3 separate regions of the Homo sapiens genome follow, and all the other regions are reported to be linked to region 1. The links are microRNA targets in miRTarBase. Many come from high-throughput screens and were not tested one by one. Region 1 holds a microRNA gene; each other region holds the end of a gene's coding sequence.
Evidence for each region. The annotated mature microRNA hsa-miR-3200-5p reads AAUCUGAGAAGGCGCACAAGGU and lies in region 1 at 1,296-1,317, opposite strand. An mRNA with a match to its seed (bases 2 to 7 or 8) in the 3' UTR can be bound and repressed. Matches are read on the target gene's strand: a 7mer-m8 pairs with bases 2 to 8, a 7mer-A1 pairs with bases 2 to 7 and ends in A, and an 8mer does both.

Region 1 (5,000 bases):
TCACTGGAATCACAGGAACCCAGCTGCACTAGGGGGCAGCGAGCCTGACAAAACAATGGAATGGCCTACTGGCTTAGCGGGGACACCGAGGGAGAAATACCCCTCAGGTTTGAGCCTCTGTCCTCCAGGATGCCTTGAGCTGACAACTGATATCTGGTGCCATGTCCCCCACAGCTACAGCAGACAGGTCCAGGAGTGGCCCTGCTCACCATCACGCATGGTTGCCCTTTGCAAGGTGTGTGCTTCCCATCCTCACACACTTGGGATCAGCTGGGTTAGAGGATCTAGTCCTGGGGTAAGGGAGGAATGTGAAACAAAGATTCCACTGATCTGGACACTGCCACAACCACTTGGCCACCTACGGCTCCTCATGCCAGTGACCAACAAAGAGGGGAGTGACTCTACTGCCAGGGGAGTGACTCTACTGCCAGGGGAGTGACTCTACCGCCAGGGGTCACTGATCCTAATTGCCATGAGGAATTAGGTGAGTGGCCCATTTGGAAATGGGAGGAGAATGTCTGGAATAAAACCCAGAGGACTCCTTGGGATATCTCTTATTTTTATTTATTTATTTATTTTTTGAGACAGAGTTTCACTCTTGTTGCCCAGGCTGGAGTGCAATGGCGCTATCTCGGCTTTCTGCAACCTCCGCCTCCCAGGTTCAAGTGATTCTCCTGTCTCAGCCTCCCGAGTAGCTGGGACTATAGGCACCCGTCACCACGCCCAGCTAATTTTTGTATTTTTAGTAGAGATGGGGTTTCACCATGTTAGTGAGGCTGGTCTTGAACCCCTGACCTCAGGTGATCTTTCCACCTTGGCCTCCCAAAGTGCTGGGATTACAGGCATGAGCCACTGTGCCTAGCACCGGTATCTCTTAACATTTCCATGATTGGTAACGGCTGATAATGAGCAAGGCCAACAACACATGCAGACCACTCAGCGCAAACATCACAGACCAGCCAGAGTGCTGGCGGAGAGTGGAGAGGGTCTAGGGTGGGTAGTGCAGGAGGGAAATGATGAGTAACAATGAGCACACCAGGACCGGCCACAGCAGCAGCAGATGACCTTGTTTCACAACCTTCTTGCTTTATTCTTCCTGGTAACCCCAGTGGGCCAGCACCAGGAAATGGCTTCTGTCACTGATGGGATTTGTACCTTCCTGCTCAGGGAAGGAATGAGGATGTTTTTGTTCTCCAAGGAAAACGGAGATTCCCACATTGAAGTAGGAGAGCTGATATCATGGGAGGGCACGAGCAGACCTGAGTAGCGCAAGGTGTGGACTGTATTGGACACAAACCTTGTGCGCCTTCTCAGATTCCCTCGACCACCTCCTTCTTTGTCTCTCTCGATGATGCCTCATCCAGGTCACGCCGTACCTCCACTTCTGGGCTTGTATGAAATGCCACCGTGGAAAATAGGATATGAAAAGAACAGGTCAGATGAATCTCCCCCCACTCTTCCCTCCACGGATGGCTCTGAGGTGTATTTTCTTCTTGTGTAAGTTCTGGAAAAGTCCATGTGCCAGGCAAGCATGCTTGCTGAGCGACCCACCGTGTCTCTGTAGCTCGCTGTGAAGTCTCATCCAGCAAGGGAATGAGCTGGGTGGTCACTTTGATCTCTCCTCTGCCACTTGCCATTGCTCCTTCACTGCCCTGGGATTGCACCTCCCAAAGTGTCAGCTCTTTATTTTTCATTTATTTATTTATTTATTTGAGATGGAGTCTCACTCTGCCGCCCAGGCTGGAGTGCAGTGGCGCGATCTCGGCTCACTGCAACCTCCACCTCCTGGGTTCAAGCGATTCTCCTCCCTCAGCCTCCCGAGTAGCTGGGACTATAGGCGCCCGCCACCACGCCTGGCTAATTTTTTGCATCTTTAGTAAAGACAGGGTTTCACAGTGTTAGTCAGGATGGTCTCGATCTCCTGACCTCGTGATCCACCTGCCTCGGCCACCCAAAGTGCTGGGATTACAGGCGTGAGGCACCGCGCCCGGCCAGCATTAGCTCTTTAATCCCTGCCTTGGGCTATGTTTTCCAGAAGCCCTTCCCCAAAAATGTCCATGGGAAAAAAAAAAAAAATTATATATATATATATATATATATATATATATATAGAGAGAGAGAGAGAGAGAGAGAGAGAGAGAGAGAGAGAGAGAGAGAGAGAGAGAGAGACAGGGCAGCGAATCTGAATCCAGATGCACAGAAAGACCAAAAGCTACCACTCTGGAGCAAAGTACTTAGTCTTATATGGAACTTCCATTCAATGCAAGCTCAAGGTGACCCTGATTCACTGTGAAATTCCCATCCAACCTTCTGCATTCTAATTCAGCAAGCACTTCCTGTGGGCTACTATATAAAGGAACTGTGCTAGAAACTGGGGAGGGAGTAGATACAAAAATAAATACGACACATCTTTCTGGCCTCAATGGTCTAGCTTGGGAAGGACACAGGCCTGTAAATGACAAGCCACTGTTTGTTAACAATAAGTGGGGGGAAATAAATTCAAAATAAGGGAGGTGCTCACTCCATGAAAATTCACTAGCTACATCCTCGTAATTGACCAGTTTTTCTGCATGTATGTTATACTTTTATACTTTATAAAAATTGGCTTTAAAAGCAAACTCCAGGCTGGGTGCGGTGGCTCGCGCCTGTAATCCCAGGACTTCGGGAGGCCGAGGTCGTCAAATCACTTGAAGTCAGGAGTTTGAGACTAGCCTGGGAAACATGGTGAAATCCCGTCTCTACTAAAAATACAAAAATTAGTCAGGCATGGTGGCATGCGCCTGTAGTCCCAGCTACTTGGAAGGCTGAGACACGAGAATCGCTTGAACCTGGGAGGCAGAGGTTGCAGTGAGCCGAGCGAGATTGTGCCACTGCACTCCAGCCTGGGTGACAGAGGGAGACTCCATCTCAAAAAAAAACCCCAAAAAACAAAAAAACCCAGAAATTTATTATCTCACACTTCTGGAGGCTAGAAACCCATAATCAACGTGTTGAAGTCCACAAGAGCTGAAGTCCACGAGAGCCTGGCTAATTTTTGTATTTTTAGTAGAGACAGGGTTTCACTATGTGTGCCAGGCTGGTCTCAAACTCCTGACCTTGTGATCCACCTGCCTCGGCCTCTCAAAGTACTGGGATTACAGGCATTAGCCACCATGACCAGCTGATTTCCTACCTTTTTAAGGCTATCTCCCTGTTGTGTATACATATATACACACACATATATACACACACATATATATATATATTTTGAGATAGAATCTCTCTCTGTCACCCAGGCTGGAGTGCAATGGCACAATCTTGGCTCACAGCAATCTCTGCCTCCTGGGTTCAAACGATTCTCCTGCCTCAGCCTCCCAAGTAACTGGGATTATAGGCACCCACCAATATGCCCAGCTAATGTTTGTATTTTTAGTAGAGACGGGGTTTCATTACGATGGCCAGGCTGGTCAGAAGCTCCTGACCCCAGGTGATCCTCCCACCTTGGCCTCCCAAAGTGCTGGGTTTACAGGCGTGAGCCACCGTGCCCAGCCAATAATTTTAGATCCATCCATCCATCGATGGACATTTAGGTGGGTACTGTGAATAATGCTGCAATGAACATGGCAGTGCTAGTATCTTTGAGATCCTAATTTCAGTTCTTTTGGATAAATGTCCAAAAGTAGGATTCCTGGATCATATGGTAGTTCTATTTTTAATTTTTTGGGGAACCTTTATACTAGGAAATGAACCAATTTAAAATGGGTAAAAAACTTGAGTAGGCACTTCACAAAGGAAGATACCCAAATGGCTGATAAACATATGAAAAAGCACTCAACCTCGTCAGTTATCAGTGAATGCATATGTGTCTCATGATTAAGCAATTTTACTCCTGTGGATTTCGGCATTAGTAATGTGTACATATGCTTACCAGAAGGCAGGTACCAAAATGTTCACAACATTATTCCTAAAAGCCAAAATCTGAAAACAACTTGCAGGTCCATACACACTAGAATGGACAGACAAATGGTGGTTTATCCATTTTGTGGTTCATCCAAATGGGGGAATATAATACAGCAATTAAAACAAATGAGTTAGTTACATATAAGAACCTGGAAGAGGCAGTGGCTCACACCTATAATCCCAACACTTTGGGAGACCATGGCAGGAGGATTGCTTGAAGTTAGATGTTCGAGACCAGCCTGGGTAACAAAGCAAAACCTGTCTCTATAAAAATAAGAAAAAGTTAGCCAGGCATGTTGACATGTGCCTGTAGACCCAGCTACTTGGGAGTCTAAGGCAGAAGGATCCTTTGAGCCCAGGAGTTTGAGGCTACAGTAAGCTATGATTGTACCACTGTACTCTAGCCTAGGTAACACAGCTAGACCCTGTCTCTACAAAAACAAAAAATGAACAAACAAAAAAACCTGGAAAAAATCTCACAAGTATAATGTTGAGCAAAAACAGCCGTGCACTACTGCACCCAGCTAATTTTTGTATTTTTTTTTTTTTTTTGAGACGGAGTCTTGCTCTGTTGCCCAGGCTGGAGTGCAGTGGCGCGATCTTGGCTCACTGCAAGCTCCACCTCCCAGGTTCACGCCATTCTCCTACCTCAGCCTCCCGAGTGCTGGGACCACAGGCACCCACCACCACATCTGGCTAATTTTTTGTATTTTTAGTAGAGATGGGGTTTCACTGTGTTAGCCAGGATGGTCTCTATCTCCTGACCTCGTGATCCGCCCGCCTCAGCCTCCCAAAGTGCTGGGATTACAGGCATGAGCCACCGTGCCCGGCCCTTTATTTTTCTTTGAGACAGTCTCTCTCTGTCACCAGGTTGAAGTGCAGTGGTGTGATCTCGGCTCATGGCAACCTCACCTCCCGGGTTCAAGCAATTTTCCTGCCTCAGCCTCCCGAGTAGCTAGGACTACAGACACGCACCACCACACCCAGCTAATTTTTGTATTTTTAGTAGAGACAGGGTTTCACCATGTTGGCCAGGATGGTCTTGATCTCTTGACCTTGTG
Region 2 (5,259 bases), not on the chromosome of region 1:
AACCGTATCAGTGTGATGCATGTGGTAAGGGCTTCAGTCGTAGCTCAGATTTTAACATTCATTTTAGAGTCCATACAGGGGAAAAACCCTATAAATGTGAGGAGTGTGGCAAGGGCTTCAGCCAGGCCTCAAATCTTCTGGCCCATCAAAGAGGCCACACTGGAGAGAAACCCTACAAATGTGGTACATGTGGGAAGGGCTTCAGTCGGAGCTCAGATCTTAATGTACACTGTAGAATCCACACAGGAGAGAAACCCTATAAATGCGAGAGGTGTGGTAAGGCCTTCAGTCAGTTCTCCAGCCTTCAGGTGCATCAGAGAGTTCACACTGGAGAGAAACCATATCAGTGTGCAGAGTGTGGGAAGGGCTTCAGTGTAGGTTCACAGCTTCAAGCCCATCAGAGGTGCCACACTGGAGAGAAACCCTATCAATGTGAGGAGTGTGGGAAGGGCTTCTGTCGGGCCTCCAATTTTCTGGCACATCGTGGAGTCCACACAGGAGAAAAACCATACCGATGTGATGTGTGTGGTAAGCGCTTCAGACAGAGATCCTACCTTCAAGCCCACCAGAGGGTCCACACAGGAGAGAGACCATACAAATGTGAGGAATGTGGGAAAGTCTTCAGCTGGAGCTCATACCTTCAAGCCCATCAAAGAGTTCACACCGGAGAAAAACCATACAAATGTGAGGAGTGTGGGAAGGGCTTCAGTTGGAGCTCAAGTCTTATCATTCATCAGCGAGTCCATGCTGATGATGAGGGTGACAAGGACTTTCCTTCATCAGAGGATTCACACAGGAAAACTCGATAAAATATGTTTTACTATCTCAGATGGGTGCTGAAATATTTTAATAATCAGAGCTATCATAGACAAAACATTTGTTTTATAGAGTCAGTAGTTCAGCCAAGTGATTGGGAGACCACACAGCAGAGAAGCCTCACAAGAGTGGAGACATATGGACTGCATTCAGAACATTGACCATTAGCTGATACATGCAGACAAGAGGATCAGGAAGGATGAGTCTGATCTGGAGTAAATCAGAAGTACTAAGATAGAAATGCTGAATTCTGTTCCACTAGAATATAAGATCCAAGAGGGCAGGGACTTTGTTGACTGCCAAATCTACTCTGCCTTTTCAGTGCCTAATACGTTGTAATTTTTCAGTAGTATTTGAAATTACTGTCATATTTGAAATTCAGTAATATTTGACATTTTTATTTATCTCTAGAAGTTTCTCTAAAATTGTACTCAGAAGAATTCTGCAAGGCTTGGAGGATATATAAGTTAGTCATATGGCCTGATTTTCCCATTTTTGCAGATCTCGTGGACAAGTGTTTATCAAACTGAAGGTTGCAGCTTGTTAGTGGGTTCAGAAATCAGTTTCTGGCTAGCAACTAGAAGTTTTGTATGTTAACAGTACTTTATTGAGGTGTAATCTGCATGCAGTAACATGCACAAGTCTCAAGTTCATGGCTTTCTGAATTTTGACAAATGTAATCATCACCAAGATCAATGTATACAATATGTCTATTAAACCAAAAAGTTTTCTTGTGCCCATTTCCAGTCAATCCCACCTCCAGTGCCAAGTATTATGATTTCTATACCATAAATTAATTAGGTCTGTTCCTGAGCTTCCTATGGATTTAGTATGTACTCTTATATCTGGATTCTTATGATCAAATGTATGATCATCTCAGTAGATTCAGAGAAAACATTTGACAAAATTTAGCATCCACTCATGATGAAAAAATTCTTCAATGAGATAAAAGGCATCCATGAAAATCATATAAGCTAACATTCTTTTTTTAATTAGGGAATAATTTATATACAGTGAAACTGACTCTATCATGCATTTTGGCAAGTGCTGTTATGTGAACACCACCATCACAATCAAGATAGTCTATAGTTCTAGTACCCCCTGCCCTGAAACTTGCTTGTTCTGTTTAGTCAGCTCCTCTCCCCACCACCAGCCCTTGTCAACTGACTCATTTTCTGTCTGTATAGTTTATATCATTTCCAGAATGTCATATAAATGGAATTCTAGAGTATGTTTCCTTTGGAGTCGCACCTTTCACTTAATGCTTCTGAGACTCATCTGTCTTGTTGCATATATCAGTACAGAAGTCATTTCTTTTATTGCTGAGTAGTAGTCTGTCATATGGATGTTCCACAGTTTGTTTATCCATTTATCACTGGTGGGATACTTGGGTTTTCAGTTTTCAGTGATTATGAAGAAAGCTGCTGTCAACATTTGCAAACAGTTTTGTGTGTCCACATTGTCTTAGTAAATATTAGGAGTGGAATTGCTGGGTTGTATGGTAACAGTATACTTATCTATGAAAAACTGACAGACTTTTCTAAAATAACTGTACCATTTTACATTCCCACCACCAGTGTATGAAAGTCCCAGTTCCTTAACTTCACTGACAATTGGTATGTCAGGGTTTGGTTTCATTTTTATTTTGTTGTTAGGATTTCAAAGGGTTATAGCGGGATTTCATTTTGGTTTTAATTTACACTTCCCTAATGGCCATTGAGCATCTCCACTGCTCGTTTGCTATCCATTTGCCTATTTTCTTTTGTGAACTATGTTCAAATCTTTTGTCCATTTTTTTAAAACCTGGATTGTTTCTTATTGATTTTTGAGAGTTCTTTATATGTTCTGGATAGATATCTTTGTCAGTTATGTGTTTTGCAAATATTGTATACCATTATGTGGCTTGTGTTTTTATTCCATTAACAGTATTTTTCACACAAGAAATTTTTTTTAATGAAGTTCCTTTTTTGTCTTTGATGGATTGTGCTTTTGGTTTCAAATATAAGAACTCTGCCTAATCCAAGGTCACAAAGATTTTCTCCCACTTTTTTATCACAAATTTTATGTTTTCAGGCTTTATATTTAGGTCTATGATATATTTGAGTTAGTATTTATATAAGATGTGAATCTTTATATAAGGGAGGTCCACTATTTGCATATGAGAATCCAATTCTTTCAGTATTGCCATGGCACCTTTGTGAATCCATTAACCATACATGTATGGGTCTTTTTCTGGCCTCAGTGCAGTTTCATTGATTTATGTGTCTATCATTTTGCCAAATATTGCACATCTTGACTTTTGTATCTGTATATAATGTCTTGAAACCAGATACTGTGAGTCTTCCAACTCATTATTTTATTTTGGCTATCAAATTTGTCTTGCCATAATTTCCAGAATCAGCTTTGTCATCTGTAAAAATAATTTGCTGGGATTTTTATTGAGATTGCAATGAATATATAGATGAGTTTGGGGACAACTGACATTTTAGCAATACTGAGAATGTTCTAAACCATACACACAGTATCTGCCTATTTAGGACTCCCTTATTACATCAGTAATTTGTAGTTTTAACATATAGATTCTGCACACACTTTATTAGATTTATACCTACATATTCCTTTTTTAGGGTTCTAAATTAGTACTGTTTTTCAAATTTCAATTTCCAATTGTTCTTTTTCAATATAGTTGATTGTTTTATGTTGACCTTGTGTCCTATGATCTTGCTAAACTTAGTATTGGTTTAAGTAGCTGTTCTATTGATTGCTTGGGATTTTCTGTGTAGACAATCTTGTCATCTGCAAAAAAAAAAAAAAATGTTTTTCCCTCCCAATCTATATGCCTATTACAGCACCTCTACTATGATGTGGGGAAACTCCTTCCAAGGTTAGGTTTGAATGTCGAAACTCCTTCCAAGGTTAGGTTTGTATGTCAAACTCCTGACGGTAGTCCTTTGGAATGATCAAAGAAAGATGATTACGGGGTGGGAGGGCTGTCCAAGAAAAGATCCAAAACAGAATAGTCAATGTTCAGGCAGTTTATAAAAGGGGATGTCCTGCCAGCACACAGTTTAAAAGAGGTGGTGGAGGGCATATGCACTTGTGGAGCAGTAAGTGAACCTCATCAGGATTGTGAGGGAGACTGGACATAGGCAAGAGATGCTTATAGGTGGCTTGCACTAAGTCAAACACCAAGTTTCCTCCAGTCTTCACAATTCACCCCTGATGTTTGGGTTAGCACAGCAAACTCCTAGGTTTCCTATAAATAAACTTGCATTTGAGAGAGGCCAAATATGCAAAGTTGACCCAATAAAATTAGGCCAGCAATTATAATAGCTCCCTGAAAGATAATGTGGTGCCAGATAATGTTAATCCAGGCAGAAGGAAGCAGTCAGGAGAAGAAATAGGGATTCAGAAACTCTTGCCACATTTTAGTAACTTAGTAACTTCGTTGACTGTTTTGGTTTGTTATCTACTGAACGATTCTGGAGAGCTTTCCTGTTTTTACTGACCTTCACACAGCCAGAGGTTCCCTTCAGAGGGCCACCTTGAGATGCCACTAGTTAGTCTAATGCAGTATTTTATCAACTACCATGACAGCTACAGAGCTTTATCTCATTAAGGGCTTCTAAATCTTGGGCTGTTTGGTACATATGGTCTGCCAGGAATTGTGACGTTGTTTGGCTGGCAGCTCTAAGAATGAAGTCTGCTACAGAACTGAAAAGATCTAGACTTATGCCTGTTATACCAAAGATTGTGATGAGGCCCAATTTATAATATACAAAAAGGTGGCCTGGTATCCCCTTTTATGGGAAGGGCATTCACCAGTGCATACGTGTGAGGCCCTTGTACTTTCAATGGCTTTATATAATATCAATCGTTGACAGAGGGCAGGAAAGGTGGGACTGTGAAGGAAAAATTCAGAGGAAGAACCTGATGAGGTTGAGGGTGCCTGGGGAAGTAAAGGAGCTGGAGGGTGACCAGAGAGGATGGCGACTGGTTAGTAGTATGGATATCACATACCTCCAAGAGTGTGGAAATCAGTTGTACGAGTGGTTACCCAGGTTGGGACGCCTGCTGGCAGGCCCAGCATTGTTGGAGTTTTATCTCTTGGATGACATGTTCTGTTACTGTTTCACATGTATTATCTGGCAAGTTGAAGAAAGTAGGATGTGGTGTCATGATGAAGGAATAGTGCAGAGTGAAGCATGGATTGTTGGACAATGGGACTGGCGCTGATGTGGTTGTGGAGGTCACTGTGGAGACCACAGAGGGGTAGTTATCATGTCCAGGTCCCAACTGTTAAGCATGAAGGGAAGTATAGTTTTAAAGGCTTTTGTGTAGGGGTCATTTCACCCAAAGGATGAAATTAAGTGGTGTGGCACCAATGGGTGTAAGTTGGCTAGTTTGTAGGGCATTGGCTTACACCAAAAGGGCATCACATGA
Region 3 (5,259 bases), not on the chromosome of region 1:
AGTGTCCCTCTTCCACCTCTTATTCTAAACTGTCGAGCCTTTGTTGAGGAGATGTTTGAGGCTGTGCGAGTGGACGACCCTGATGACCTGGGTGAAAGAATTAAAGAGAGACCTGCCTTGAATGCTCAAGGTGGCATCTATGTCATTAACCCAGAGATGGGACGGAGTAATTCACCAGGAGGAGATTCAGATGATGGCTCTCTGAATGAACAAGGCCAGGAAATAGCAGTTCAGGTTTCTGTCCACCTTCAGTCAGAAACCAAAAGTATTGATACAGAGTCTCAAGGCAGCAGTCATTTCAGTCCACCTGATGATATAGGATCTGCAGAATCTAACTGTAACTACAAAGATGGGGCATATGAAAACTGTCAGCTGTAACCTACAATGCTGTAACCCAGTACCTACAAAATCAGCTCGCTCTCAGAAAAGGAACCTGTTTCTTAGAAGAAGTAACATTTTTGCCAAAAGATGACTGGGGTTTTCCGTTTGTTAATATTAAGCACATCAGAACGTGAATTGCCAAAGTCTTCATTAGAAGGCAGCATTTTTCCTCTCTGATACTTTTCAGTCATTTTCCTTAGAGCTTTATTAAATTATGCATGCTAAGATTTAAAGGAGCCCCAGATAAACATGATGGGGAAAAGCACTGAACTAAGAGTCCCATGGTTTCTCTTCTGGTCACAGTTCTTCCATTGGTTGGATCTGATACTTATCTTGGGACTTCAGTTTTTCCGTCAATAAGATGAGGGATTAGGTGAGATCTGAAGTTGTTTCTAGCTCTATAGCTTCTTAACCCATCACCTTTAAATTACCAGAATCTTCACTCATCTCTAAGTAAACCTTTCCCGGGACTTTTACTCGCTTCTTTTGGAAAGGATTAAGCTGAGATCTAAATTTCCACACCAATGTCATAATGCACAGAGGTTTTTGAAAAACATCTGAGTGTTTTTCAGATGTTTTGCCATGTGGAGCATATAATGATATGTGCAAGATTGAATCTTTTCAATGTAGCACATGTCTGTAGGGTTATACAGATGTCAGAGAGCTAACTGCTCTGTAAACTACTTTCCATGAGTAAATTGGTCCTTGGTGGGGGTGTATCATATTTTTAACTTACTGAGATATCATTTTAGTTCATTGAGGTTGGCAGGGATTGCCTAACTGATCTTCCAAAGTGAGCAGTTTATTTCTAAGGTATAACGTCTTTGATGCTTTTAGAATAAGAACAGTGTCAAATCATCTGTCTTCTGGAAAATCATGGATTTTCATATTTCTGTTAACAGAATTTCTCAGGCTTTCCCTTTTTAAAAGTATTGGACTCTACAAATAGGTTCTATATTTGGGATCTCATCCTAGGAGAAAACCCAAAACTGGATTCCTCTTAAGACCTCTGTCAACCCTCCTGCCCTTTGTGGTCTTAGGTATGGTGCTATAGGTTGCATGCGTCTTTATCTTGTTTGTTTGGTTAATATTTTGTTGTTGAGGTTTTTATTTTTGTTTACTTCAGATACATAATTCTGAGCTATGGCTGCTTTTGTAGCCTTTCCAAGAAGCACTAACCTGAAATAAGATTAGATAATTGTGAGGGTGTGTTACTATATTAAAATACACACACAACTGATCTAGACATCAAGAGGAAGAAAAATGATGGATGATGCCACCTGCTTCAACTGTATATAATAAACACTTATGATGACATTTCTTGCCTGGCTGAGATCTGATATAATGGAATTGTAAATACTCTTCAGAACAATTTCTTCAGCTACAGGAAGCGTGGTGCCATATAATTTTAAGAACTTGGCAGTGGAGCTCCATTTGGGGCTTCACGTTTCTTCATATGACTTCTGATTATTGAAGCATTACTTCAGCTAGAGGCTCCTGAGGGAAATGTTCAGAGGAGGTTTTATCAGGATTTTAATTTAAGGTTTCAAACAGGGGAAGACAGGAAATTCAAAGCGTGACGGGATAAAACTCATGCCTCCCTTTGTCCAGGCTTATCAGAAGTAATACATCTGCTCTGAATAGCATGAATGAATCAATGTGCAGTTTTATCAGATGGCATCATGGATAAAGATGATAATGCTGCCTTTTCTGTCTCTCAGGCTGTTTCCATGGAAACCTCTAGAGCCAAATAAAAGCTAACCAATCATTTAGCCAAAGCTTGCCTTGGCTCATAGACTGGTATTTCTTTAAGGAAAATTGTTTTTATATATTTGACTATAAGAGCAAAGGCTCTTGAACATATCCTAGATTATGGAACACTTTTTCCCTTCCCTTTTCTCTGGAAAAATTAAATTTTTTTTCTGTCCACTGAGACTGGAGTGCAGTGGCAAGATCATAGCTCACTGCAGCCTCCAACTCCTGGGGTCAAGCGATCGTCCTGCTTCAGCCTCCCAAGCAGCTAGGACTACAGGTGTGCACCACCTTTCCTGGCTAATTTTTTTTTATTTTTTGTAGAGATGGGGGTCTCACTTTGTTGCCCAGGCTGACCTTGTACTTGTGGCTTCAAATGATCCTCCTGCCTTACCTCCCAAAGTGTTGAGATTACAGGCATGAGCCACTGTGCCTGGCCAAAAAACATTTTAAATCCCTTGTCTGGGGGTCAGTCCTCTAAACATCCCTCAGATTTCAGATAGTACTTTCAACCCTGTCCTAACATAGCAGGTTTGCAGTAATCTTTTAGAATATAGCTTGTCAAATTAGAGAATGGTTTTACCCCACATGTTCTCATAGGAGACATTATTATTTAGAACCCTAAGGTAGACATGTTTAAAATCAAAGTCCTAAGAAACAGAACTTTGGAAAAATGGAGGAAATGTTTTTAAAGTCTGTAAGTTTGCACGATACTGTATAGTAACTAAATGCATGCTACTCCGTTGTATCCTAGTTATTTTAGAAACAGAGGTGGCCTAATTTGGTGGCCAAAGTAACTGGTTTACTTTGAGTGTACCAGCTTATGGTGCCATTGATGAGGAATTAAAGTAGGTCAAAATTTAATTGGAGTTGGTATTACTTCGTAAAGCTAGTTTTCAAGAGGAAGAAAACCACACTTACTAATGTTTTCTGTATCTAATCAAATACTCTTCATATATAATTAAGCCTCATGTTATCTTTTTTTTAAATCAACCTTTTGAACTTCAACTACAGTCTAAAAGTCTTGATGGTAACTATAGTGTAATTATCTTTTTGTCTCACTGGATTTTATAGTTAGTGGAAAATGCCTTTACAAAATGTATTTAAAATAGCTGTCATCTCATTTGTAAATTTTGTCGTGTATTGTGATATAGTGAACCTTATTGTCCTTATGAAATGGTAGCTTTGTGAAATACATTCACCAAAAATCAAAATTTGAACATCTTTATGATTCCTTACCAGCTGAAGCCAGATAGACAGGTATTAATTGAGCTGATGCCCCACTTGAGTTTATAGACTGTTTGATAACTGCCTGTCCTCCAAATTGTGTATGTATATGTTACGATGGTTTAATTCTTGAGTCAGGGCCAGCACGCATTTATATTTTCTACCAATTACCTTGATAGAAATATCTTAGAAATTGCTGACCTGGAACGGTTGTGAGAAGACTCCTGGCTTCTTTCTTGCCTCACTTAACAAATATTTTAAGGTCAAAGCAATATCTGTGCACGGCTTTCCTTTTGCTCCTCCAGACAAGTGAGGCTGTTGGTATAGTCCTCTTCACCCTCTGCATGTAGCTTCACCCTAGATCAGACTTTTGTCTCTTGGGTCCCAGATGGCACAGGAGCACTGCATGCTTGTTTTCTAGAGCCCAGCCAGTCATGGGTGCTAGCCTAGTCTCCACACACCAGCAAGTAGAACCCAAGTGTATTGTATAAATATTTCCTGAGTACCAGTAAGAGAATGCATTCTTTTCTCATCTAGGCCAGGAATGTTGAAAATGCTCAGCCTTACATAGAAACTCCTAGATTTTCACTAACGCATTTCACAAAAGTAAATAAGTATTTCATATAATTCAGAGGATGTTTAAATTGTCAGCATTTTAATAAATACTTGCATTATAATTTTGTCTCTTTTTTAAAGAAAGTCATACTTGAATATAATTTATTAAACGTTCAATGGAGTATATAGTCTATTTGAAATTTTCTATAGTGTATGTTTCATTTGTATGTTTGACGAAATTTGTATGTTTGATGGAACTTGACGTTAATGATTTTAAATGGGTAATTTTTTGGGGAGAGGGTAGTCTCACTCTGTCGCCCAGGCCAGAGTATGATGGCATGATCATGGCTCACTGCAGTCTCAACCTGGGCTCAGCAGTTCTGCCTCAGCCTCCTGAGTAGCTAGGATTATAGGTGCACGCTAACGCACGTGGCTAATTTTATGTGTGTGTGTGTGTGTAGAGATGGGTCTCGTTATGTTGCCCAGACTGGTTTCTATCTCCTGATCTCAAGTAATCCTCCTGCCTGGACCTCCCGAAATGCTGGGATTACAATCATGAGCCACAGCCCCCAGCATAGGAGTAAATTTGAATTCAACTTGGATTCTAGTGTGGCTGGAATCCACTTTAACTTTACAAATATTTACACCTAAGCACTGTGTATGTTTTCAGTGCTATGAGCTACACTGAGATGGGTATCCTGCCCACAACGGGCCTGCAGATACCAGACTATCCTCCCTGGGCCCAAATACAGCAGTTTACTCTTCTGAAGTAAAGCATTTTTGGCAAAGGCAAGAGCTTGAGAAAAAGAGATGAGAAGATTTGGTACATTTTTAAAGAGCTTGTGATTATAGTGTGTAGTTTATGGTGAGATTTGGCGGGCAGGAGGTTTAGCTCTGGTAGAAGCAAAAGTCTGCAGTCCCATCAGGGTGAAGAGTGGTGATGGTTAACAGGCATGGAAAAGCACAAGGTGTTAGGAGAACGCAAAGGCAACAGATGGGAGGTGTGACTCATTACTTAAATGCCACAGACTCCTTAGAATGAAAATCTAGCCTTTATATCCCTATGGCAAAAGATTGCTGGACTTTAAATCCTGATTTCACCCCTAGCCTTGTAACCATGGACAAGGGCTTCAGCCTTTCTCGGCTTCAGTAAAATAGAATTGATAATGCCTACCTCACAGAATTAACACAAGGATTAAATATAGCAACCGATAAGCAAACACTGATAGCTCTGATCTACCACACTGTAAGGGGCTAGTCATGAGCCGGCGTCAGCTTTGTTAGTAGCCTTGTCCAACTGATGACTATATTTGCATTTGTGGTCAACTAAAAATTCCTCCACAC

Region 2: the mRNA of ZNF45 is a reported target of hsa-miR-3200-5p. Seed matches in the 3' UTR shown: 7mer-m8 at 825-831.
Region 3: the mRNA of MFAP3 is a reported target of hsa-miR-3200-5p. Seed matches in the 3' UTR shown: 7mer-A1 at 1,504-1,510, 7mer-m8 at 2,621-2,627 and 7mer-A1 at 2,629-2,635.

What each region holds. Positions count from the first base shown.
Region 1 is chr22:30,727,886-30,732,885 of GRCh38, reverse strand. MIR3200 (microRNA 3200) reads right to left here and starts at 1,329; the gene lies at 1,245-1,329. All of the region lies in intron 1 of OSBP2 (oxysterol binding protein 2), which reads right to left.
Region 2 is chr19:43,908,937-43,914,195 of GRCh38, reverse strand. ZNF45 (zinc finger protein 45) reads left to right here. Exons shown (of 10, transcript NM_003425.4): 10 at 1-1,572. The coding sequence ends at 809. The region is part of intron 1 of ZNF45-AS1 (ZNF45 antisense RNA 1); the gene reads right to left. Among named protein-coding and RNA genes, the nearest start is that of ZNF45-AS1, 9.7 kb to the right of the region's middle.
Region 3 is chr5:154,053,336-154,058,594 of GRCh38, forward strand. MFAP3 (microfibril associated protein 3) reads left to right here. Exons shown (of 3, transcript NM_005927.5): 3 at 1-4,115. The coding sequence ends at 378. Among named protein-coding and RNA genes, the nearest start is that of MFAP3, 17 kb to the left of the region's middle.